7 linked regions of the Homo sapiens genome follow. The protein of the gene in region 3 purifies or fractionates together with the protein of the main gene of each other region. This does not show direct contact. Each region holds a gene or a part of one and is shown on either strand. Other genes may lie near its edges.

Region 1 (3,500 bases), on a different chromosome or scaffold from region 3:
TATGTACATAGTCTGTCTCTGAACATTTTGGTAATATGTTTTCTGAAAAGTGCTTATCAAGTTTCCTGTAATTCTCCTTGGACCCATGACTGTCTCACATATATTTTTGCAGAGGAATGCTTCTTTAAATTATACTATGTGTTTGTGCTAATTGTAAATGTGTTTATTTTAAATATTTGCTTAGAAATAAAATTTTTCCCTTTATACTGCTATAGAAAACATTTGAAGCAATTCACCCTTCTAAAATTTGAAATCTAAATAGAACATTTACTTCTAAAAGTTTAGCAGTTGAAAGATTGTCAATTGTAATAGATTTTTCTTCTTTGTTTTGCAAGGTGCCAGATAGATTGGAAAAAAGGAAAGAATGTCACTTTGAAAACTATTAAGAAGAAGCAGAAACACAAGGGACGTGGGACAGTTCGTACTGTGACTAAAACAGTTTCCAATGACTCTTTCTTTAACTTTTTTGCCCCTCCTGAAGGTAAATAATGTTTTAGCTTGAGTATTAACGGTTGTTTTATAAAAAGCATTGCTTAGCTTCTTATTCATTGTAATTTCTTTTCTCAATTTTGCAGTTCCTGAGAGTGGAGATCTGGTAAGTTGAATTGTTATATATTTATTGAATTGTTAAGTATATTTGAAATTAAAGCACTGAATTTCAAAAATGGAGAGTGGGATGGTTGTTACATTGAGTTCTGAGGCCTACAATGCATGGGGCAGACTTTTTGGATATGAAAAATAATTCCATTCAAAATTATATCAGTGCTTCTGCTGAGAAACACTGAGATAAAAAGCTTAAGGTTTTCTTTTCTTTTGAAACTTCACATATTGCTGTGAGGGATTTAACTTTTCAAAACTGTTGTCTTCCTTAGTAAAACCAGAATATATTAAGTCACTTATACTGTTACATTCCTAACTACATTATGGTTCAAATTCATTCCTGAATTTGTTACTCCAATGTAAATATGGTTTCATATTGTGACTAAGTATGTTCACATATATGGCATATGGCAAAGAACATGAAATGTTCCTGCCATATAGACTGAACTGAGGAACAACCTTAAAGAAAGTCTATACACACAAGGTAGGGCAGGTATGTTTTGAATTTGGTTTTCTTTTGGGCATGTTTTTGAATTTAAATTAACTGAGATAGTTTAAATAGTTTGTACATATATGGAATTAGAAATTAACCTAAACTGAATACTTTTGAATTGGAATACTCTTGGCTAAGACTTAGAACAAATTTGTAAAAGGCAAAAGTAAGTATTTCTGGCTTGGCTTATAGGACAAAAAAAGAGAACATAAAGCAGTGTGAATTTCAGGTGAGAAAAACTACTTTAAGTATTAAGATAGAGCATCACACTATTTTCATATCAGTGGATGGGTTGGAGTTTGTGTTCAAGTTTGGGGTTTTTTTTTGTTTGTTTGTTTGTTTGTTACTAAATATTGATGATGACAAAACAGTCTAGTTAAGGATAGAAAACCTCCACCTGTGGTTTGAATTCCTCCCCACCCCCTTTTGGATTTTTCTATTTATTAGATTATGTTGTTGACTCAAACATTCATGGAATTCACAGAGGGTGTGCTCATTGTTTAGTATCATAGAACTTGTATCATTGTTTAGTATCATAGAAGTGGGATTATTTTATTTTATTATTATTATTTTTTTTTTGAGATGAAGTATTGCTCTGTCATCCAGGCTGGAGTGCAGTGGTGCGATCTCCACTCACCACAACCTCTGCCTCCCGGGTTCAAGCAATTCTCCTGCCTCAGCCTCCCGAGTAGCTGGGATTACAGGCACGTGCCATTGAACTCGCTAATTTTTGTATTTTTAGTAGAGACGGGGTTTCACCATGTTGGCCAGGCTGGTCTTGAACTCCTGACCTCAGGTAATCTGCCTGCCTTGGCCTCCCAAAGTCCTGGGATTACAGGCATGAGCCAGGCCAAAGTGGGATTATTTTAATTGTGAATAATGTCAGACCCACTTTTGCCCTGTGCTTTTCTATTAAATAGAAATCCTAAGCCAGGTACAGCTTCAGGCACCTGTAGTCCCAGCTGCTCTGGTGGCGGAGGTGGAAGGATCACTTGAGGCCAGCCTGGGCAACATAGCGAGACCCTGTCTCTAAAAAAGAAAAGTGCTAGGGGCACCTGATTTAGTTAGTATATTGTCTTTCTGAACTAGGACTGTCTCATTTGGGATTAGTAGACTTAAAACTGTACAGCTGTTTGGGTACTGTCTTTTAGGAACTATAAAGTGATCCTCTGTGGTTGTTTATTATGTCCTTCTATTTGCTATGTACTTAACAATATTAACAATAACTATATATTAACAATAACCCAAGGGTTTTTTTTTTTATTTTTCTATTTGGTGTTTTCAATAATATTTTAAAAGGAAAATTGCGGACATGTAACAGTTGCTTTTATGTATTTATGTTTAAACCAGCAAAAACTAAGCAGTTCTAATTTTTATTCTTCACAATTTATCTTAGTATGCATACTGGCCTGCTAGCTTATTTTCTTTTTGTTAAAAACTTGGAAAAGTTATTAAGGAAATTTAAAAATGACAAATCATTTGTTAACATGGTGTGAGAAAAATCATGGAAAGTAAAAAGTAAAGTTGAGCATTTCTTCCCTTCATCATATAATTTAAACTGAAGAGTCTGTCTTTTTTTTTTTTTTTTTTCGGTTGCCCAGGCTAGAGTACACTGGTGTGATCACAGCTCATTTCAGCCTCAAGCTGCTGGGCTCCAGCAATCTTCCCACCTCAGCCTCTCAAGTAGCTGAGACTACAGGCGTGTGCCACCCTGCCCAGTTAATTGTTTATTTTTTGTACAAACGCAGGGGGCGTCTCACTATGTTGCTTAGGTTGCTCTTGAACTTCTGGGCTCAAGTGATCCTCCTACTTTGGCCTCCTGAAGTGTTGGGACTACAGTTGTGAGCCATCACACCCAGCCTCTAAGAGTCTTACATGTGCCAAATTAAGTAACACAGTTATTCCTAAATTTTCTGCTTTTGTTTTCCTTTAAAAATAGGATGATGATGCTGAAGCTATCCTTGCTGCAGACTTCGAAATTGGTCACTTTTTACGTGAGCGTATAATCCCAAGATCAGTGTTATATTTTACTGGAGAAGCTATTGAAGATGATGATGATGATGTAAGCGAATTTGAATCCTGCAAAGAAATAATTGGTTGAGGGTATAGTGGTCAGAATTGGTAATAGATTAGTTTAGTTTTTAAGAAGCAGGACATAATATAATTCAAAATTAGGCTAATTACTGATGTTCTGTATATAGCTTTTCTGGGTTTTAAGTATGTCTCCTTAGGATTTTTGGATTCATTTATCTTAGCTTTTAATTTTCTGCTAATAAGATTGTTCTGAGTTTATGAAACTTTTTTATGTTTGGTTAGTGCTATAGATCTATTATGCCCTTGCCTTGACTTCACAGAGCTAGGACTTTCTTTAGTGCACAAGAAAACATTTACTGGGAGGCATAGAATT
Region 2 (3,285 bases), on a different chromosome or scaffold from region 3:
GGGTCTTTGGCACTGTGGTTAGGTTAGCTAATTCGATTATCCACTCAAGTTTTACTCAGTTGGAAATATGTTTTTCTAGATGATGGTGCCTGTGCTTAGGTTTGAGAGGATATTTAAAATACGACTTTGTGTGCCATTGTTTGACAGTGGAATTAAGGGTAAAAATATTTAGATATGGAAGTGTGAAAATGTAGTTGCATTGTTTTCATTATGTTCTATTCCATTTCATTCTATTTTAAGAATAGCCTCAATTTATTTTTAGATTGTTACATAAGTACAAAATCCATTTGCTTTAGTGGGAGTTTTATTTTTATTTTAAAATGATAACCAATTAAAGGAGTTTATTATGAAATTCTAAGTAGCATTGTTTAAAATGTAAAATTACATTACAGAAACATTTGGAAAGGGGAGAATAAAAGAAAACAAAACACAAATGTTGCCAGTGCTGTAGGTGCTATTATTAGCGCTTTGGTGTAACTCATGGTCGTTTTCCTACTATTTTTATTATACAGTCATCTCTTGGTATCTGTGAAGTGGTTCCACAAACTCCCTCAAATACCAAAATCCTCCTATGCTCAAGTTCCCAATATAAAATAGTGTAGTACTTGCATTACAACCTTTGCACATCTTCCCATATACTTTAAAATCATCTTTAGATTACTTATAATACCTAACACAATGTAAATGCTGAATAAGTAGTTGTTAACATTGTATTGTTTAGGGAATAATGGCAAGAAAAGTCTGCATGTTCAATACAGATGCAACTTTTCCACTGAATATTTTTATTCCAAGGTTGGTTGAAGCCATGGATGCAGAACCCATGGATATAGAGGGCCTACTGTACTTGTACCATCTAGAGATAAGATTTGTATCTTGCATTTGTTTTAACATATCTGTTCTAAGGAATATCTCAGTCACCAGGCAAGTGCTGCAGTATAACTAGGTACTACGTCAGGTGCTAAGGTTAAGAGAGTATTTTCCTTCACTGACTCCTCACTCCGAGAATCCATTTTACAGCTTCATTGGTTTGGGTTATTCCAATTTTTTGATGTGAGTAAATAAATGACTTCTATTTGCCCAAAATAAAGCTTATATAGGCCTTATAACCATGCAAATGTGTCCATTAAGTTGGACTTGGAATGAGTGAATGAGTATTACTGCCAGTGTGTGTGTGTGTGTGTGTGTGTGTGTGTGTGTGTGTCTGTCTGTCTGTCTGTCTGTCTGTCTGTCTGTCTGTCTGCCTGCCTGCCTGCCTGCCTGCCTGCCTGCCTGGCTGCCTGTCTGCCTGTCTGCCTGCCTGCCTGCCTGCCTGCCTGCCTGTCTGTCTCACTTTGTCCCCTAGGCTGGAGTGCAGTGGTATGATCTCGGCTCACTGCAACCTCCACCCCCCGGGTTCAAGCGATTCTTCTGCCTCAGCCTCCTGAGTAGCTGGGATTACAGGCGCATGCCGCCATGCCCGGCTGTTTTTTGTATTTTTAGTAGAGACGGGGTTTCGCCATGTTGGCCAGACTGGTCTCAAACTCCTGACCTCAGATGGTCCACCCGCTTCAGCCTCCCAAAGTGCTAGGATTACAGGCATGAGCCACCGTGCCCAGCCACTACCAATTATTTCTCTTAATGGATTTTCATTGACCCTAACCCTGTAAATTCCATCACTTTTATCAAGGTGTATATTATAATAAGTCTATAATACCCAATCATGTAGTTGTGTGATTATTTTATTTTTTTGAGACAGAGTCTCAATGTTGCCCAGGCTGGAGTACAGTGGCACCATCTCAGCTCACTGTAAGCTCCGCCTCCTGGGTTCACACCATTCTCCTGCCTCAGCCTCCCAAGTAGCTGGGATTACAGGCGCCTGCCACTTCACCGGGCTAATTTTTTGTATTTTTCGTAGAGACGGGGTTTCACCATGTTAGCCAAGATGGTCTCGATCTCATGATCCACCCACCTCGGCCTCCCAAAGTGATGGGATTACTGGCGTGAGCCACCATGCCCAGCTATTTTTTTAACCAATATATTAGCTAGCTTTTTTCCCCAGAATAATTTTCCAAAAATACATTTAATAGAGAATAAAAGTTAAAAGAACTTTCAGTGGTTTAATGCTGTTACTTTTAATATTTCAAAGATCTGACTGCAGCCATGAGCAGCAATGAGTGCTTCAAGTGTGGACGATCTGGCCACTGGGCCCGGGAATGTCCTACTGGTGGAGGCCGTGGTCGTGGAATGAGAAGCCGTGGCAGAGGTGGTTTTACCTCGGATAGAGGTATTTTGTCGAATAGAAAAATTTGAAGTACTTCAGTATTTGTTAGTATCAAGACTGGTCTGACTAGCCGAATTCTTTGTTTTTGCTCAAAACAGGTTTCCAGTTTGTTTCCTCGTCTCTTCCAGACATTTGTTATCGCTGTGGTGAGTCTGGTCATCTTGCCAAGGATTGTGATCTTCAGGAGGATGGTAAGTATTTAACACTTCCTTTTCATACCCCTCTAGAGCTTGGAGAGGTGAGCACATGCAACTGTGTATAGCATTTCCACCTTTGAGGTTTTGTATTGTATAATTTAAAACGTAACACTTTGTAAAGGTTTTATAGTCTTGGCCTGTTTCTTTTCCTTATTGTTGAAGCCTGCTATAACTGCGGTAGAGGTGGCCACATTGCCAAGGACTGCAAGGAGCCCAAGAGAGAGCGAGAGCAATGCTGCTACAACTGTGGCAAACCAGGCCATCTGGCTCGTGACTGCGACCATGCAGATGAGCAGAAATGCTATTCTTGTGGAGAATTCGGACACATTCAAAAAGACTGCACCAAAGTGAAGTGCTATAGGTAAGGTGTCAGAATGTTGTTAGAAGAAAACTCATTGCAGAGATTCTTCCAGAGATGAATTAGCTATAAATGGAAGGGCCTTAGTAAATTCAGTGAAACTTAGCTGTGACCAGATAAGACCAATTTTCAGCATATGTAACTGGCAGTCTATCTGTATATAATTCTGTATTCTGCCCTGATATCCTGTGGCTTATGGTACCTGGGCAGTTTTCACAACTGGACTTTTTTAATATATAAAAGTAAGAGTGTTATAATTTGAAACTTCCAGAGACTTCATAGAAAGCTCTGTAATATACATAAATCTTTTATCATGTAACCAGAAATCTTTGCCTGTTTGTGACATGTAAGTGTATAATTTGATAAATGTTGTTGTGTACATATCTGTGAAACCTTAGGGGTTAATTGCATGAAAACAAAGATCAGGCGTTTTGTTCTGCATGGTGACTGTTGCTTTGGTAGACAGTTTT
Region 3 (3,500 bases):
TATAGTCTCTCTGAGCCTCAGCTTCTGCATCTTTATAGGGTACAGAATTTTTTCCAACCTTGCAGGGCTGTTGTAAAAACTTAAAGAGATAATATATGCAAAGTTCTTAGTACACTGCTGACATATAGTAGACAATCATATGCTGTTATACTACTAATAAAAAGTAATGAGTAGGTGGCTATCACCATGCCTGTTTTCCTCCACATGGCTATCCTGAAGGATCTCTCTGATGTCATGAGTCCCATCAAGGGGCATCTGAGGGCACTGGGCAGTCAGAGCCACATCAGGAGCTTGACTAGAAGTGGAAGTGAGGTGTCTGGCCATGGGTGAGGTCCCCTTCAGGAAGGTGAAGGGATGGCTAGGGTCAGCCTAAAAGGGATAAAGACGACCTCTTGACAGCACAAGCTCTCCAGTCCATTTTATCTCCAAAATACCCCACTGTGCCAAAAAGCCCACATCTGCCACCTGAGCCAAGAGAAACAAGGTCAAATGACCAAACATTCTTACCCACTCTGGGTGAGCAGCCATTTGAAGAGTGTGTGTGTGTGTGTGTGTGTGTGTGTGTGTGTGGGTTGGAGTGGGAGGAAGGGGCAGGGTGGTTCTGTCAGACAGATAAGAAGTAAAGGGAATGCCCCAATCAAATGTGGCCTTCACAAATGGATGGTGACACCCTTGCTCTTCCCCTTGCTACTCCCTCCCTCTTGTGTGTGGCAGAATGACAAATGTAATCATTTTAAAAGGTCTCGTCACCTGCTCAGTCATTCCCAATAAGCATACGCAGCACTATGGAAAAACCAACACTATTGCCTCTGGGTTTTGGCCAGGAAAAAAAAAAATCAAATCACCAGGACACCACCAACCACACTGTCAAAGACAAAATAAAAAGCTTCATGAATTCTCCATCAGCAATATAACGCTTCCTAGCCTAAGCAAATATAGACCCAGTATATGAATTGTGGAGGGATTTTGCATTAGGCTCCATGGTTTCTAATAGCTGAGGCAGAAACCCCTAAGAAATCTATGTTTCCATAAAGCCACCTTTATTGGCTATAATCCTGCTAGGGTGAAGACTGTAATCTCCTTCCTGAGCCCCCTTCCTCTGATGGAAAGCTTCACATCCCAGCATCATGAATACATTTCTGTGACCTCAGCTGGAGAGGAGACCTCGGAGAGACGGAATTACCATGACCTCACCGAGCACCTGTCCCTCCTTCTGATGATATTGCTGCTTCTGTGTCTGACCACATGATCCATTCAGACCATCTCACAGTCACCCAGGTCATTCAATCACTGACTCAGACTAAAAAGCAAGACTGATACTGCTTTAGAAAGAAAGAATAAACCACGTGCCTTACTGCGAAAAATCCAGGTTCAGAGTCACTTAGAGAAAGTCTGCTCAGAGCTACTGAACGCTTGAGTGTCTGTGGCAGCACAGGAGAAAAGCATAACAAATGGGAAAATGGCCTGCAAAATATACTACAAAGAAAAAATGCAGAAAGGATCCAAAAAGAGTGCTCTTGGTGTCTTCTGGTAATGGACATCTGAACCCTCCGAACTTCTCAACAGTCTCCTCCCTCCCCAACAACTGCCCTGACCTTCTCCCCACGCTGCCCCATATGCGCAAATGCATATACAAATGCAGACATCACCTCACCCCGAGACTTCACACGCACACAAGGCATGGCTGAAAAAAGAATTGGTGACTTAATTTTCTTAGCTCTATAAAACACATGCCCCGACCTCAAAAAGAAAACTCAATTCCCAGCAAGCTACCACCCCCAAACAGATGACTCATGGGCTTTACCCTTCGGATAGAGCAACTTCCCCTGCCCCCAACACTTGGGTAAGGGACTCCCTCCTCCTCTACCCATGGTGACACCATCCAAGGTTTCAGAGGTCATCCAGCTGCCCTCCAACCTCCGTCCTGGTTTCATCCACCAGCGCTGACTTACCCCAGTGTGGTCATGGTGACAATGGTGTACCAAAACGAGGCAGGGATGCTTGTGAACTTGCTGGCCGAGGAGCCCTTCTCGGCATAAAACATCACAGTGGCAAAGATGATGATGGCCATGGTGAGGGAGAAGAGAAGAAAGCCCAGTTCGGAGGCACAGCTCTTCAGTGTGTAGCCCAGGATCCGCAGGCCCTGGGAGTGGCGGGAAAACTTGAAGATCCTGAAGACGCGGAAGACCCGGAGCGTGACGAAGGCGCCGGACACGTCCTCGTTGTTGGTCATGACCAGACCGATGTAGTAGGGCATGATGGCCACCACGTCGATGATGCTCATGACGCTGCGGATGAAGCGGTAGCGGCTGGGAGCCGCGAAGAGCCGCAGGAGGTACTCCACGGTGAAGATCATGACGCACGCCGTGTCCAGGCAGAAGAAGGCCACCGAGTAGCGCTCCCCGCACGGCAGCTCCTTGCTGCCCGGGACCGTGCCGCACGGCACCGTCTCCACCACGTTGGTGATGACCGAGACAGCGATGAAGAAGCCAGTCACGTAGTAGAAGACCAGGGCCAGCGTGCTGGTGTGGGGGTTCTCGAAGGCCCGCCACATGGTCTGGCGGAAGCTGAGCGAGGGCATGGACTCCTGGTTGTTCTCCGAGTCGTTGTCGTCCATGAGCCGCTCGGCGTTCTCCCTCTTGCGGTCCTTGTACTCCTCGTAGCAGCAGTCCCCGATGATCTCCGGGAGGATGCCGTAGAAGGCCAGCTCGTCGTCGTAGGCAGAGATGCACTCGTAGCGCGGGTAGTGCAGCTTCCCCGTGCGGTAGAAGTTGAGCACGCAGCGGAACACCTCGGGGTCCCGGTCGAAGAAGTACTCCTTGGTGTCCTCGTTGAAGAAGAACTCCTTCTCCGTGCTGCCCAGCAGGGTGTCCGGGTAGCGCTCCAGCGTGGTCCTCCAGGTCTGGAACCTCCGCCCACTCACGTTGAGGACAATCAGCTCATCCTGCCGCTTGTTCTTGTCGGCCGGGGCCAGGGGCATGGGGCAGTTGGCCACCGGCATCCACCCGATGGCCGCAGCCCGGGCAAAAGGCAGCCAGGCCGCAACTCCGGCCGCCATGGTGACTCCAGCTCTTGGGCCGGCAGCCGCGCGGACGCTAGGCACACCAGCTTGGAGTTAGTTCAGCAAACCCTGGGAGACAGGAGGGGAGAGAGAGAAGCGGTGAGTCCATATCGACTGGCAGGTAAGAAATGGGACACAGGAAAGGATCACTGGTGAGTGAAACGGCCAAAGTCTCCAGGGCAGATTAATAAAACTGAAATCCCCACCACAGAGAGGGGACTTGATTCTTTGCCATCCAGACACTGGGAGAACACCTAGCTCCTGGAGCTCGGCAGGGTGGGATCGCCAGATGTTGCTGACTGCCTGACAAATCGTCAAGCTCCAAGAGGGCTCAAGAGCATTTGGAGGGAAGGCCTCTTTAGCAGGAAGATCTGGCAAGACGTGGGTAATAATCAGCTCTGAAAGGTTATGGCGTTATTACCAATTTAAATTGGGAGAG
Region 4 (2,709 bases), on a different chromosome or scaffold from region 3:
AGACTTTAGTCCATACACATACTTTCTGAAGCTATTTCGTCTGTTAACCACATCTTAGAGTCTGTTCTGTTGTATCTGTTCATTCAGTTGCTCCATTAAATTTTTTTTTCCAAAAAATGAGAATACCAAAGAATTGTACAAAATCTAAACAACAGAAAAAGAGTGATTGCATTCATATGCTAAATACATTATCAGCGATTTTCAACGCTTCTAGACTGAGATATAGGACCCAGTGCTGGCCATTTAAACAGGTAACTGCTGTGAAAGGCTACCTAAAAGGGCTCAGGAACCATCTGTCCTGGGTCCGAATCCTGGCTGTGACAGTTAACTTGCTGCGTGACTGTGCTCAGTTTCCCCATCTGTGGAATGAGATAATAACGTAATTTCTAAATAATATACAATGTTAGGTAATAAATGCTATAAGTATCCTGCCAGTCTGATTGCCTGACCTGAGGAATCCATTCTGAGCTGAAAAAGCATTTCTACTGTAGGACAAGGACACCTCTTATGGGATTCTGACTAATGAGAACCCACCTAGTACATTTACTCAGCCTTAGTGTGGGGTTTTGTTGGTATGTAGATACAGCATTACTGCTCTCCTGAGATTGTCTTTTTTCCCCCTCTAAACAACAGGTGACCTGTCTCCAAAAGAGCATCAAGAGTTAAAGTCCTATGTTAATCACCTGTATGTCATTGACAGCCAGCAGGCTCTGTTTGAGCTCTCACACAGGATCGAGCCTCGGGTGTGAGCCCCACTGCCTCACCTCCCCTGTATCTGCAGCACTTTGAGCTACGGGAATGTCTATGCCAAGCACGTTGCTTTCCTGTGAGAAAAGAAGTTGCTGAGTTTTATCAGTATAACCCAAGACATTCACAGGAAAGCCAGCCAAAGCGTGTTCAGGAAGTGATGTCAGCCACCAGAGAGGGGGAGAGGTTTCTCCATGCTACTCTCGGGACAAGAAGGCAGAAGGAGAGTCAGAAGCATTCTTGAGATGGAGAAGGCTGGTTTCTTATGATCACATTGTTGATCCAGTCCAGTTTTCAATATGAGATGTGCCAGCATCAAGACAAGACAACGTCTTGACATGCAATGACCAAATATTTCATTAAGAGCGTGCATGAAACAGGAAGGAGTTTTTACTTTGCCTAGTTTTAGATTACTGTCCATAAGCTGTCAAAGAAGTCATTCTTTTGAACACCTGATGACAGAGACAGCATCTCTAGATCTCCAGGGAGGAGAGGTTTCTGTTGATACAACCTGTGACATCACCAAAAGCCACTTGTGTCTAGGGAGTTAGTGAGGACTGCAGCTAGCATCCATGCTCTGATGGGCAGATGAACAATGTCAAGGTGTGCATCACTTTGCACCACAATCAACTATTGACACATGCTTGCAGGTGAAATTAGTTTCTGTACAACTGATTTGCAGCTATAGGCAAGGTAGATGAAGTTGCTTTGCCAGTAAGGAAAAATAGTAATCTTTAAGAAATTGACTCATTGTTTAATTTCTGGGGATTTTCTTTATACTTCTAAGCAGGCTCTTATCTTTTATTGGACATAATATGATTTTGAAAAAGCACAGTGCCTGACACATTGCAAACACTCACCAACTGCTTGCTGAGGTGACAGAGTCACAAAAGTCTGCATTCTTGTGCCTGATGATGCATTTTGCGTACCTCATACAGGCTCCTTGCCCACACTATGGAATGACAGCAGCCAGTGCAGGGAGGTTAAGTGACATTTAATGAGTGAAGCACTTAGCACTCTCTAGGTAATAAGATAGTGGTAATTACTAGTGTTTTGGCAAATGAAAAATGCCCTGAAATAGCCAAATGTCTGATTAATGTTGGCAACTTAGAAGTCCTATAATCCAACTACCAGCCAAAGCAGGGAGCCTTTCTATAATTTGCCTTTTTTTTTTTTTTTTTCAAAATCTGAGTCTTCTAAAATCTTATTATTCCCATTTTTACCAATTGAGGCTCCTGTAGCAAATAAGACCTCTTGATATTTTCAAGGACTGGTTAGAGGATTTCTTTCAACCTTCACATGAACAAAACAGCCTATGGGTCAAAATAATGAAATCCACCCCTGCCTGCTAGATACTTGTCACCTTGCTAAAATGCAAGGGCCTGGTCCATTCATTTTCCAAATGCAGGAGTCTTGGTGCACTTCTCACTCTTCCTGCCTGTTCATCTCTTTCATGCCCACACAGACCTGTTTCCTTTTTGTCTCATCAACGCCTCATTCATCCTCATTACTGAGGCGTGTCCAATGCTTTTTGACATCTTTATAGCAGTGCTGTTTCCTGGGCTCAGGAACCACACTGAGCTTGAGATACTGCTGGAAGGAACCATGTGGAGAGAAGGTTTGGGAGAACTTTGAGAGAGACTTAGTTTGGCCCAGCATGTAAAACTTCAGTCCTGAACATTTATAGGGTTTTATAGAAGGGCATCCTCCAGGGCTGGTCCATTCAGAGAAATGCTGCATGCTGCCGTCATGGAATGTGGCCCACAGGACACCAGAGCCGTGAGAACCGGAGAGCAGACTTCCCTCACGGCTGGGCTGAGCAAACCCTCCAAAGCCCTCCTCACGCAGTTACTAACAATAGCATGGGCTTACAGCACAAGCACGTGTTCTCACCTTTTTCCTATGCCCTGGACTAAGGTTTGGCCAGTGTAATCATATAAGGCCATCCTGACATTGTTTCTG
Region 5 (3,037 bases), about 110 Mb from region 3:
CACATTTTGCAATGTAATGTCACAATGTAACGTCGCAGCAGGAAGAATTGAGAGGTGAAGCTGTCTGATCTCATCTCACAATTCAGGCTTAGAGTCAACTGGAAATCCAAACAAGCACTAAAGCACGGTCAGCAGGCACAGTACATGTGTGTGTCTCGTGTGTCTCTCACACACGTACTGTCTTTCAAATGCACAGATGCTTCTGTGATTCATACAAATGCATTTGAAAGTATGACTGGATCTACAATAGTTTTAGCATTTCTGTATTTTCTCAAACAGCAAATACTAAACACATGACCATTTTCTGGGAGTTAGGATTCCCAACTAACCCCTTTGAGTTCCAACATTCTGAGAGTTTTAAACAGCAGTTGGCCAGGGGTCCCAAACAGATGATCCTAGGAAAACAGGAGGCTGGGCAGGGGTGGGAATCTAAGGGCTCCTGTCTTGGTCCCAAAAATCTCAGTTTCAAGCAAGAAAGGGAAAAAAAAAAGGCTCCAAAGTGATCAAAATGTTGCTACATTTTATTTTCAACTTAAAACTTCATTATAAAATTTGCCAAATAAACATGTCAAAAACAAACTTAAAAACAAAGTGTAGCTGATATCCAGAAATTGCAGCACTGTATTGATAAAGGGCTCTTTTCATTACCAGGGAAAGAATTTAATGTCCTTCCTTCCTCCCCAAAAGCTTCCTTGGTGCAATCCAGTACAGAAAACGCCACCACTTTCTGATGCCAGGAGAAAAGCAAAATAAAAAAACTGCTTGCACACATTAGCACTGATAAAACAATGACAATTTCACTAAAAGAATGTTTAAAGACTACCGGATGCTGGAGCAAACCAACTTCATGACTGCATTAACATAAGCTAAGTTACATACACTTCAAATGCAGTATAGAATTAACACTGCATATCTAAATGGCTCATATATAAAATGTGTAATTAAAACCCAAACATACACACTATGTTTATTACATTCCCCTACATTGAAAGTACTGAGAACAATTTAACTCTGAACACAAAAGTTTAGTGAATTTGCTACTGTTCCATTACAGGACAATTAAAAATGAGACTATATCAACTTCACTAGAATTTAATTGCTAAAGCTACCTTATGCACATCTATTAAACTAAAAGAAACGACTTTAACCCCTTCAGTTGTTTTTAAGACAGCACTCCTTTACAGGGAGTCAGGTTTGGTAAATATAAAGGATACATAAAAAATACAGTATAAACTGCATAAGCTTAACAGTAGCAAAAACACTGATGAACTTTTAAAAAGTCAAAAATATATAAAAATATTAGCCTGAAATGGCAAATTTTCAAACACCGATCTGTGTAAAAATGTTTAAATATTGATGTTACTCCAAAAATATATACTTATTCTATTTTTTTTCTATTTGCAACAGTTTATAAAGGCAAACAAACACCTGCAATTGAGGTAGCAAAGCCAAATTCACAAACTTTGGATCAAGAAAAATACCCTTCCTATGTTTTAACAGCATCTTCTATACAATAGTGAATGAATTCTAATTGTTCCAAAATTTTTAATTCACATTACTTTACAAAATTTTATTTAAAATACTGAAAATGTTTTGTTAAAAAGACAGTTAGTCCTGACAATCATCTCACATTCAAAATACTGTACAAAAAAATCTGAAGTCACCATATATTACAAAAAACTAAGCTATGTATTTACATTTTCAATGTAGTTTTAGAAGTTGAGGTTAAGCCAACTGCTACAAATGGTCTCCTTTAAGCAGTGTCTGCTAATAATGTCATCACTTTTCACTTTCAGCATTTAATATAGGCCCTTCTTTTTGCTTTCAAATTATATAATTAGTAAAGGATTTAAAGAAAAACAAATGAAAATTCTATTCTCTTACTGAATAAAACATAAATGTACTTTAAATGGAACAGTGTTTTCATTTAAGAAAAGCCAACTGGCAAAAAAACATCAAAATTTGAAAAGTAATCAGAAACCATAAACATCAATAGCATTCTTCACAGTACATTTATATTAAGACTGTCTTCTGTTTTCAGATTAAGGGTTGAAAATTTCCCATTAAAATGCAAATTCTCACATCCTTACTTGTATTTTTCCTATGTTAACTGTAAGTTAATACAAGTAAACACGGCTATATTAAAAGATCAACTACTCGGCTCCATAGTCCTGACTCAAAAAGAAAAAAAAAAGTACAGACCCTGTCAGTGCAACAAAAGAAAGTTTCGGATTTTTTTCCTTGTTTTTGCAAATGGCAGCTGGAATTGCAGGAGTATTTTGTAGAAAAGCCAGAAGAGCATTAGTAGATGTATGGAAATATACGGTAGGGCACACGCTGACAGTACTTTTCCCAAGCCACGCCGTATTTCTTCTTACAGTGGTACTCGTCACGAGCTTCTCGGTGGACAAGCAACATGGTGAAATAAATTATGTAGAAATAAGGCAGAATGTGGTTAAAACCTGTGGATAATAATAGTACACAGTATTAGATATTTTTATTATCACTACAATGTATTTTTTCCTGCTTTCCCCCAAATTCTCTAAAAATGGAACCACAAGGTACTTCATTTTCTCTAATAATGATGAGAATAATTAAACAAGTCTGTAAAATCCCACTGGAAAGTGGCAGAAGGTCGTATCTAAATTAGAAGCTACTCAAAGACTGATGAATCCATTCTAACAATCCATCACAATCAAAACATCTGTCCTCATAGTTAATACACATCTCTTCATTTCTCGCCCTTCTTCCCCCAGCAAAGAAGAAAAACTGCTGTCTTCCACCACAGGCTGGGCCACCAAACAGGCAGCAGGCACGGGCCAGCTCCTCCACCTCCACCAGCTCCCCTGGATCCCCCTGCTCCCCCAGTTCCCCCAGCTCCCCCAGCTTCCCAAGATCCCCCTGCTCCCCCAGTTCCCCCAGCTCCCCTGGCTCCACCAGTACCTCCAGCTCCCCCTGACACCCCAGCTCCCCAAGCACCTCCAGCTCCCACAGCTCTCCCTGCTCCCCTGCTTTCCCAGCTCCCCACGAGGCCAGA
Region 6 (3,500 bases), on a different chromosome or scaffold from region 3:
GACACCTTCCCCTCCCTGGCTACCCCTAGATCCTGCGCTATGAGAATGAGGTGTTGCAGCTGGAGGAGGATGAGCGCTTCGAGGGCCGCGTGGTGTGGAATGGCAGCCGGGGCACCAAAGACCTGCAGGATCTGTCTATCTTCATCACCAATGTCACCTACAACCACTCGGGCGACTACGAGTGCCACGTCTACCGCCTGCTCTTCTTCGAAAACTACGAGCACAACACCAGCGTCGTCAAGAAGATCCACATTGAGGTAGTGGACAAAGGTGAGTCGGGTGCTGCCTGCCCCTTTACCGTCACCCACCGGAGAGCCAGATGGAGGGACAGATGGCAGGCAGTGGACAGGACAGGCTGGCTCTGTGCCTGGCCAGCCAACCGCCCACAGCAGCGGGCTGAGGGGGAGGGGAGCAGCCCCTCCTGCCCACTCCAGCTCTGGCCTCTGTTTCTCTCCAGCCCACGGAGAGGTCAAAGCATGCCTGTCCCCCACAGACGCTCCGGGTACAGAACCCAGCTCTGTCACCTGTGCTGTATGACCTCTGGCAGGTGCCTTCTGTCTCTGAGCCAAAGGGTTGTCCTGGGCTTGCCCGGGATAATAATCCGATGTGTTTCTCGGGGTGTGGTTTGAGCCATTCTTCCATCATGGGGTTCATGAGGATTGAGCAGCTGCAGGCACACGCCTGGCTTCCAGCAGAGCCTTGCAGGTGGTGGCGAGGGTGGCGGTTCTTACTGTTCGAGTAGCTCAGCCCTGCTGCCCTCTGTGGTGATGAGGCAAGAGAGCGTGCCACCTAGAGCAGAGTTCCGCACACCCCTCTGCACTCCTGCCCCGGGGGAGCCGCGCTGGCCTGCAGTCTCACTCAACACCTCTGGGGCGGGCCTAGGGGTCCTTTCTAAAGCTCTCAGGTGAGGCAGTGAAGGGCCACAGGTGCGGGGCCCACCCTCTGAGCAGCAAGGGCCTACAGCGCTTTTGAACGTCTCATCATTTTGCCTCAGCCACCCTGGACCCCTTTTCTGAGGGAGGTCCGCCCCTTCTCTGATCCATCTTCTGCTCAGCATCAATTGCAATTGTCCAGCGCCCTGTGGCCACTGGCTTAGAGTTGGGGAAACAGCCCAGGCCTTGAAGCAGCTACAAGCCGTGGCAGAAAGGTCTCTCAGGGCCACGGCACACACATCCTCATGGGCAACACGCACTGCCCATCTTTTCTGTGAGATGGGTGCCGGCCTCAGTGCCTTACACGGAGTCCCTTAGTGAATCCTCTCCCCACCCTCTGGGGTAGGGGCTCTTCCTATCCCCATTTTACGGATGAGAAAACCAAGGCTCAGGGAGGGAAGGTTATGTGGCCAAGGTCATGTGATTGGGAGCTGGACTTGAATCCAGAGGAGCTTGGGTGACTGTGTTTCTGTTCTTGGCATGATTCACTGTACTCTGTGATCAGCCAGAGCCTGTGGGTTTCTTTTTATAATTAGCATTTTTACGTTTATTGTCAAATTGGTGTAGCAGAATGCAATTCAGCAGGCATGTCTGAGCCACTCTGGTGTTTGTCACGATGCTGGGGGGTGGGGGTCACCCGCAGACATGGATGATGGAGCCCCGCCTGCGGAGTTGCTGTGACAAAGATGCCTGCGGTACTGGGACTTTACAAAACCTGTGTTATTGCTCTTGCAAATCTGCAGAGGTGAGATGGGGAGAGGGTGGGAGGCTCCAGGGCACTGTTCAGCCACCCAGGTTCTTTCCATCTTGTTGTTTGGCAGTTGGCCAGGGTGTTGTGTCCTCTGTACGCCGTGACCCAATAGAGCCTCTTTTTTTTTTTTTTTAAATTTAGATTTTTATTTTTTGAGACGGAGTTTTGCTATTATTGCCCAGGCTGGAGTGCAATGGCGTGATCTCGGCCCACTGCAACCTCTGCCTCCCAGGTTCAAGTGATTCTCCTGCTTCAGCCTCCCGAGTAGCTGGGATTACAGGCATGTGCCACCAAGCCCAGCTAATTTTTGTATTTTTAGTAGATATGGAGTTTCCCCACATTGGCCAGGCTGGTCTCGAACTCCTGACCTTAGGTAATGATCCACCTGCCTTGGCCTCCCAAGGTGCTGGGATTACAGGTGTGAGCCACTGCGCCTGGCCTGAGCCTCTCTTTTTTAGGATTGCCCACTGTATGACACTACATCCCACAGCCTGTGCTATTACCAGCATTTACCATCATATGCAGTTCCTTATGTTGGCCCTGCAGAGTTTGTGTTTTCTGCACTATCCACCCAGTTCTAGTGTTTTTTACCCACCATATGTAGTATTGCCTTTTAAACATTACCCACTATATTATAGTATTTTATATTACCCACTATAGGATATTTTATATTACACAATATATTTTACTATCATAATATTGCCAAACACAACAGTTTTTTGTTTTTTGTTAAAGAGACCAAGTCTTGCTCTGTTGCCCAGGCTGGGATACTGTGGCGTGATCATAGCCCACTGCAGCCTCGAACTCCCGAAATCCAGCGATCCTTCTGCTTGAGCCTCCCACGTAGCTGGGACTACAGGTGTGAGCCACTACGCCCGGCAATTTTTTTTTTTTTTGTAGAGACTGGATCTTGCTATGTTGCCCAGGATGGTCTTGAACTCCTGGCCTCAAATAATCTTCCCTCCTTAGCCGCCGTAAGTGCCGAGATTACAGGAGAGAGCCTCCGCGCCTGGCCTACAGTATTTTTATTATAATCCATCATACTAGCGTATTTTTAACGTTCCCCACCATGGCGGGTATTTTTATTACCCACCATGCTATGCTATAGTATTTCAAAAATTAATCCTATTGTAGCATGTAAAAATATTCCATTCTATACCATACTATATTCATCATTACCTCTGATACTACAGTATTTTTAACATGACTCATTGTGCTATTGTATTTTTTCATTACCCACAATACCACAATATTACTGTATTTGTTAGCACTGCCTGCCATTCCTTATTATTATTATTTTTGCAATGGAGTCTCGCTCTGTCACCCAGGCAGGCTGGAGTGCAGCAGTACAATGTCGGCTCACTGCACCTCCCGGGCTCAAGCGATTCTTCTGCCTCAGCCTCCCAAGTAGGTGGGATTACAGGTGCACGCCACCATGCCCAACTAATTTTTGTACTTGTAGTACAGACGGGGTTTTACCATGTTGGCCAGGCTGGTCTCGAACTCCTGACCTCAGGTGATCCACCCACCTCAGCCTCCCAAAGTGCTGTGATTACAGGCGTAAGTTACCATGCCCAGCCTATTATTATTATTATTATTATTATTATTATTATTTCAAGTTAGAGTCTCACTCTGTCACCCAGGCTGGAGTGCAGTGGCACGATCTTGGCTCACTGCAGCCTCCATCCACCTCCCGGGTTCAAGCGATTCTCCTGCCTCAGCCTCCGAAGTAGCTGGGATTACAGGCACGCGCCACCACGCCCGGCTAATTCTTTTGTATTTTTAGTAGAGACAGGGTTTCGCTATGTAGACCAGGC
Region 7 (3,500 bases), on a different chromosome or scaffold from region 3:
ATACATGACACAATCTTAACTTCCTCGTCTCCCTGACAATCTAAACAGTTCGTAAATTCAAAACATAGTAATGCATCAATCCCAAATAACTCCATTACTTCTTTCTTTGGCTTAAGATTTTGAACTTCTTTTCCTATCAACAGCACCAAATTCGGGGGGAGGGGGTGGAGAGAAACAGTTGTTCTGTAACACTTACCTCCTCTTGTGCAATGCCCTGATTATTAGGTACTACCCAAGGTAACAGCTCTTGGGGATCAAGCCTGCCATCGTTATCTTTGTCATAATCATTCACGAATCTGTCTTTCTCAACAAGTATCCATTCTGGATCTTCATTTGCAGCTTAATATAAAAAAACACAAATATACATACACAAGAATATCACATGTATCCAATAAGAAGTTTGGTATATCCCTAGAATAAAGGAAGTGAATTTAAAGTTTACTAAAGAAAGCCCAATAAAACAGAACTACTTAACTGAAAAGTCCTGACATAAGAACAAATATATAGTCATTTTCAAAAGTGACACGAGTCTAAACAACCCAGTTTTAAAATCATTGGATGTTTTCACAAACTAGTAATTTTGTTAACTGCTATTTGTTCCGATATCTAGTTTTCCCAGATGTGAGGTGGGTAATGTTTTACTGTATATCATGTTTCTATACAAAGTTTCTTACATGTTTTCACAAAGTAATGCCATGTGTAATTTTAAAGTGACAATCAGAATAAGTAAAACTGGTGACCAATTTAAAAATGGCATTGTTTGGTGTCTTTAAGCAACAATTCTGAAAAAACAGCTGCTTATATAAAAGCAAACTCTTAATTTCAAACACTTATTCACCTTCTACTAAGCTTCTGATACTGTGTTTACACCAGTATTTGTAGTGTTTTATGTTTCTATCTCTTTTAAGATCCACCTGCAACAGCACAGGATTTTGTTTAAAAATATCTACCTTACTTCCTTCCCCATTTAAACTGATAATAAAATTAGATTTGTTTGAAAAGAAAGAAAAATGTTTGACTCTAGACACGGAAGTAAAAGTAAGCAAGACAGCGTTCTCAGATAAGCTATAAATCCATTTGTTGAACTTGTATTACAGTTAACGAAACAAGTAGGATCAGACACAGATCCTCATTACATTTCCTGTTGAAGAGAGCTTTCAATGAGCAAGGCTGTCTTTCAATGTCTTTCTTCAATTCCTTTTCTCTTTTCACATTCTCCCAGGTGACTTACTTGGATCCCACCTGTAATCACCAAGAAATTCTTCCAAACTAACAAATCCATCACCATTTTTGTCATGTTCTTCTAAAGCTTCTTGAATGACAAATTCCTATTCCACGTTCATTAAAAAAGAAAAAAAAAAGTTACAAAATGTTCAGTCCCACTGCCATCCGATTCAATTCTACTACAGAACTTCTTTAGAAATAAATGATAATTTTTGGAGCTCTAGTGGTGCAATCAGCTAGTAAGGTACTTATACAGGAAAAATCACTTTGGTTGTCCATATCTTCAAGACAATCCTTCTAAACACTGGAATTTAGAAGCAAGAATAAAACCTGAAGTACTATGTAGCTTTAAATTCAACATCCTTAAGCTTCTGATATTGTGAAGAACTCCACTTTCACTCTCATAAACAACCTCAGCGTTACTCTCATGCTATTTTCCGCACATCTCTCCCTCTCAAGAAAAGCATCTTATACTACCTTTGTCTTTAACTTCATTTGCCCTCCAATCCATGAACAACCCTAAAAGAGCCCTTACCTTAGAACTGCTGTTCTGCCTCCAGATCTAAAATGTACCAGCCCGCCATTATACCTCAATCTCCTTGCTTCCCCTTCAGCAAACCTAGCCCTATCCATCCCAAACTGCCCCCAAATCTGTTCCTCCCTCTTATCAAAGCTTCTTATCAAACAACCAATCCTTTTCCCTAAAGATGACCTGTTCAATGGCCAGCTGTTTCAGTACTTTCCTCAATATCTTCCTATCTCCTTTTTTTTTTCAGATGGGGTCTTGCTCTGTAGCCCAGGCTAGAGTACAATGGTATGATCTCAGCACACTACAACCTCTGCTTCCCGGGTTCAAGCAAATCTCCTGCCTCAGCCTCCAAAGCAGCTGGGACTACAGGCGTATGCCACCACACCCAGCTAACTTTTATATTTTTAGTAGAGACAGTGTTTTGCCATGTTGGCAAGGCTGATCTCAAACTCCTAACCTCGGATGATCTGCCAGCCTCAGCCTCCCAAAGTGCTGGGATTACAGGCGTAAGCCACTCCGCCTAGCCCTCCCCCTTCTTTTTTTTTTTAACATAGGATCTCATTCTGTCACCCAGGCTAGAGAGCAGTGGCACAATAATAGTGGCATCATAGGCTCCAACTACTGGACTCAAGTGATCCTCTCACCTCAGTCTCCCAAGTAGCTAGGACCACAGGTGCATGCCACCACACCTGGCTAACTTTTTTGTAGAGACAAGGTCTGCTATGTTGTCCAGGCTGGTCTTGAACTCCTAGCCTCAAGCTGTCCTCCTGCCTTGGCCTCCCAAAGTGCTGGGATTACAGGTGTGAGCCACCATGCCTGGCCCATCTCTGACTCTTGCCTTCCCTTAACACTTATTTAGTAAGTCAACATTCCTGCATATGCTTTCTTCAAAATGTTGCTCAAATCTATTTCATTCAATTGCCAGATAGAACTCTGGGCCGTATCACATTATGCCTAAATTATTTCATTGCTTTTACTGGTAATTCCCCTCTTTAGTCTTCAATTGTTCCTTATTCTCCAGAGAATCAAGATCTAGCATCCTTTGCCTGTCATTCTTGGGCTCAATTAGCTTTTCCCAACTTAATTTTGGTACTTAAATTACACCCAGCACTGTTCTTAAACTGGGTCATGTATTCTGTGCCAATGAGAAATTAGAAGCTTCACAATGGCAAGAGAAGTGGTATTAATGACAGTGTCTTACCACTGAGCTATGGAGAAAAATGTATCTGCAGCCTTGTTATGCAAGGCAGCAGGGTCTACCATGACACATTAAACAAAAAGATATATCTTCCTTCTTTGAAATATCCAGGGAACCAAGCCACGTAGCTGGAGGCTGATGTCATGCAACAGACTTCAATATAAATGTTTAGTCTCTTTTTTAAAAAGCTATTTGTTACATTAGTCTTTATTTCCCAGTGTGATGGTTTATGCTTTCAAGCTTGGCCAAGTCATAATAGGGACTCAATTTATGTTTGTTGAGTTAAACTTACAATTCAACAAAAGTTTTGAAAAACTGGTACTTATTTTAAATATTAAAGGGATGAGAGGACTCATTATACTTAAAATTGCAAAAACATTACTAGTTAACTAGCAGCTGCACCCCTACCAACCCTATGAAGAATCCAAACATGATGTTTTTCCAGACCAAAAGCTTTCATAAGTGATGTTGTAAATTAAACAGAAATCCTAATATTACTAACATTGAAAAACCAAAAAAAATCTGAAAGCTACAAAAGGATAAGGAAGG

Evidence for each region.
Region 1: the proteins of KCND3 (region 3) and NAP1L1 purify together in Homo sapiens (affinity purification with western blotting, with the first as the bait; one study listed by BioGRID). This does not show direct contact.
Region 2: the proteins of KCND3 (region 3) and CNBP purify together in Homo sapiens (affinity purification with western blotting, with the first as the bait; one study listed by BioGRID). This does not show direct contact.
Region 4: the proteins of KCND3 (region 3) and RAPGEF5 purify together in Homo sapiens (affinity purification with western blotting, with the first as the bait; one study listed by BioGRID). This does not show direct contact.
Region 5: the proteins of KCND3 (region 3) and LBR purify together in Homo sapiens (affinity purification with western blotting, with the first as the bait; one study listed by BioGRID). This does not show direct contact.
Region 6: the proteins of KCND3 (region 3) and SCN1B purify together in Homo sapiens (affinity purification with western blotting, with the first as the bait; one study listed by BioGRID). This does not show direct contact.
Region 7: the proteins of KCND3 (region 3) and RCN2 purify together in Homo sapiens (affinity purification with western blotting, with the first as the bait; one study listed by BioGRID). This does not show direct contact.

What each region holds. Positions count from the first base shown.
Region 1 is NC_000012.12:76,050,186-76,053,685, reverse strand, and holds part of NAP1L1 (nucleosome assembly protein 1-like 1), read left to right. Parts: intron 1-335; coding exon 336-481; intron 482-575; coding exon 576-595; intron 596-3,032; coding exon 3,033-3,155; intron 3,156-3,500. UniProt on the Homo sapiens protein: Histone chaperone that plays a role in the nuclear import of H2A-H2B and nucleosome assembly.
Region 2 is NC_000003.12:129,170,612-129,173,896, reverse strand, and holds part of CNBP (CCHC-type zinc finger nucleic acid binding protein), read left to right. Parts: intron 1-2,125; 5' UTR 2,126-2,139; coding exon 2,140-2,263; intron 2,264-2,358; coding exon 2,359-2,451; intron 2,452-2,613; coding exon of another isoform or gene 2,614-2,619; coding exon 2,620-2,818; intron 2,819-3,285. UniProt on the Homo sapiens protein: Single-stranded DNA-binding protein that preferentially binds to the sterol regulatory element (SRE) sequence 5'-GTGCGGTG-3', and thereby mediates transcriptional repression. Has a role as transactivator of the Myc promoter.
Region 3 is NC_000001.11:111,979,669-111,983,168, forward strand, and holds part of KCND3 (A-type voltage-gated potassium channel KCND3), read right to left. Parts: intron 3,131-3,500; 5' UTR 3,059-3,130; coding exon 1,953-3,058; intron 1-1,952. UniProt on the Homo sapiens protein: Pore-forming (alpha) subunit of voltage-gated A-type potassium channels that mediates transmembrane potassium transport in excitable membranes, in brain and heart. In cardiomyocytes, may generate the transient outward potassium current I(To).
Region 4 is NC_000007.14:22,120,446-22,123,154, reverse strand, and holds part of RAPGEF5 (rap guanine nucleotide exchange factor 5), read left to right. Parts: intron 1-633; coding exon 634-749; 3' UTR 750-2,709. UniProt on the Homo sapiens protein: Guanine nucleotide exchange factor (GEF) for RAP1A, RAP2A and MRAS/M-Ras-GTP. Its association with MRAS inhibits Rap1 activation.
Region 5 is NC_000001.11:225,401,002-225,404,038, forward strand, and holds the end of LBR (delta(14)-sterol reductase LBR), read right to left. Parts: intron 2,463-3,037; coding exon 2,302-2,462; 3' UTR 501-2,301; downstream 1-500. UniProt on the Homo sapiens protein: Catalyzes the reduction of the C14-unsaturated bond of lanosterol, as part of the metabolic pathway leading to cholesterol biosynthesis.
Region 6 is NC_000019.10:35,033,470-35,036,969, forward strand, and holds part of SCN1B (sodium channel regulatory subunit beta-1 isoform a precursor), read left to right. Parts: intron 1-29; coding exon 30-270; coding exon of another isoform or gene 271-629; exon of another isoform or gene 630-3,500. UniProt on the Homo sapiens protein: Regulatory subunit of multiple voltage-gated sodium (Nav) channels directly mediating the depolarization of excitable membranes.
Region 7 is NC_000015.10:76,945,249-76,948,748, reverse strand, and holds part of RCN2 (reticulocalbin-2 isoform a precursor), read right to left. Parts: intron 1,329-3,500; coding exon 1,232-1,328; intron 340-1,231; coding exon 197-339; intron 1-196.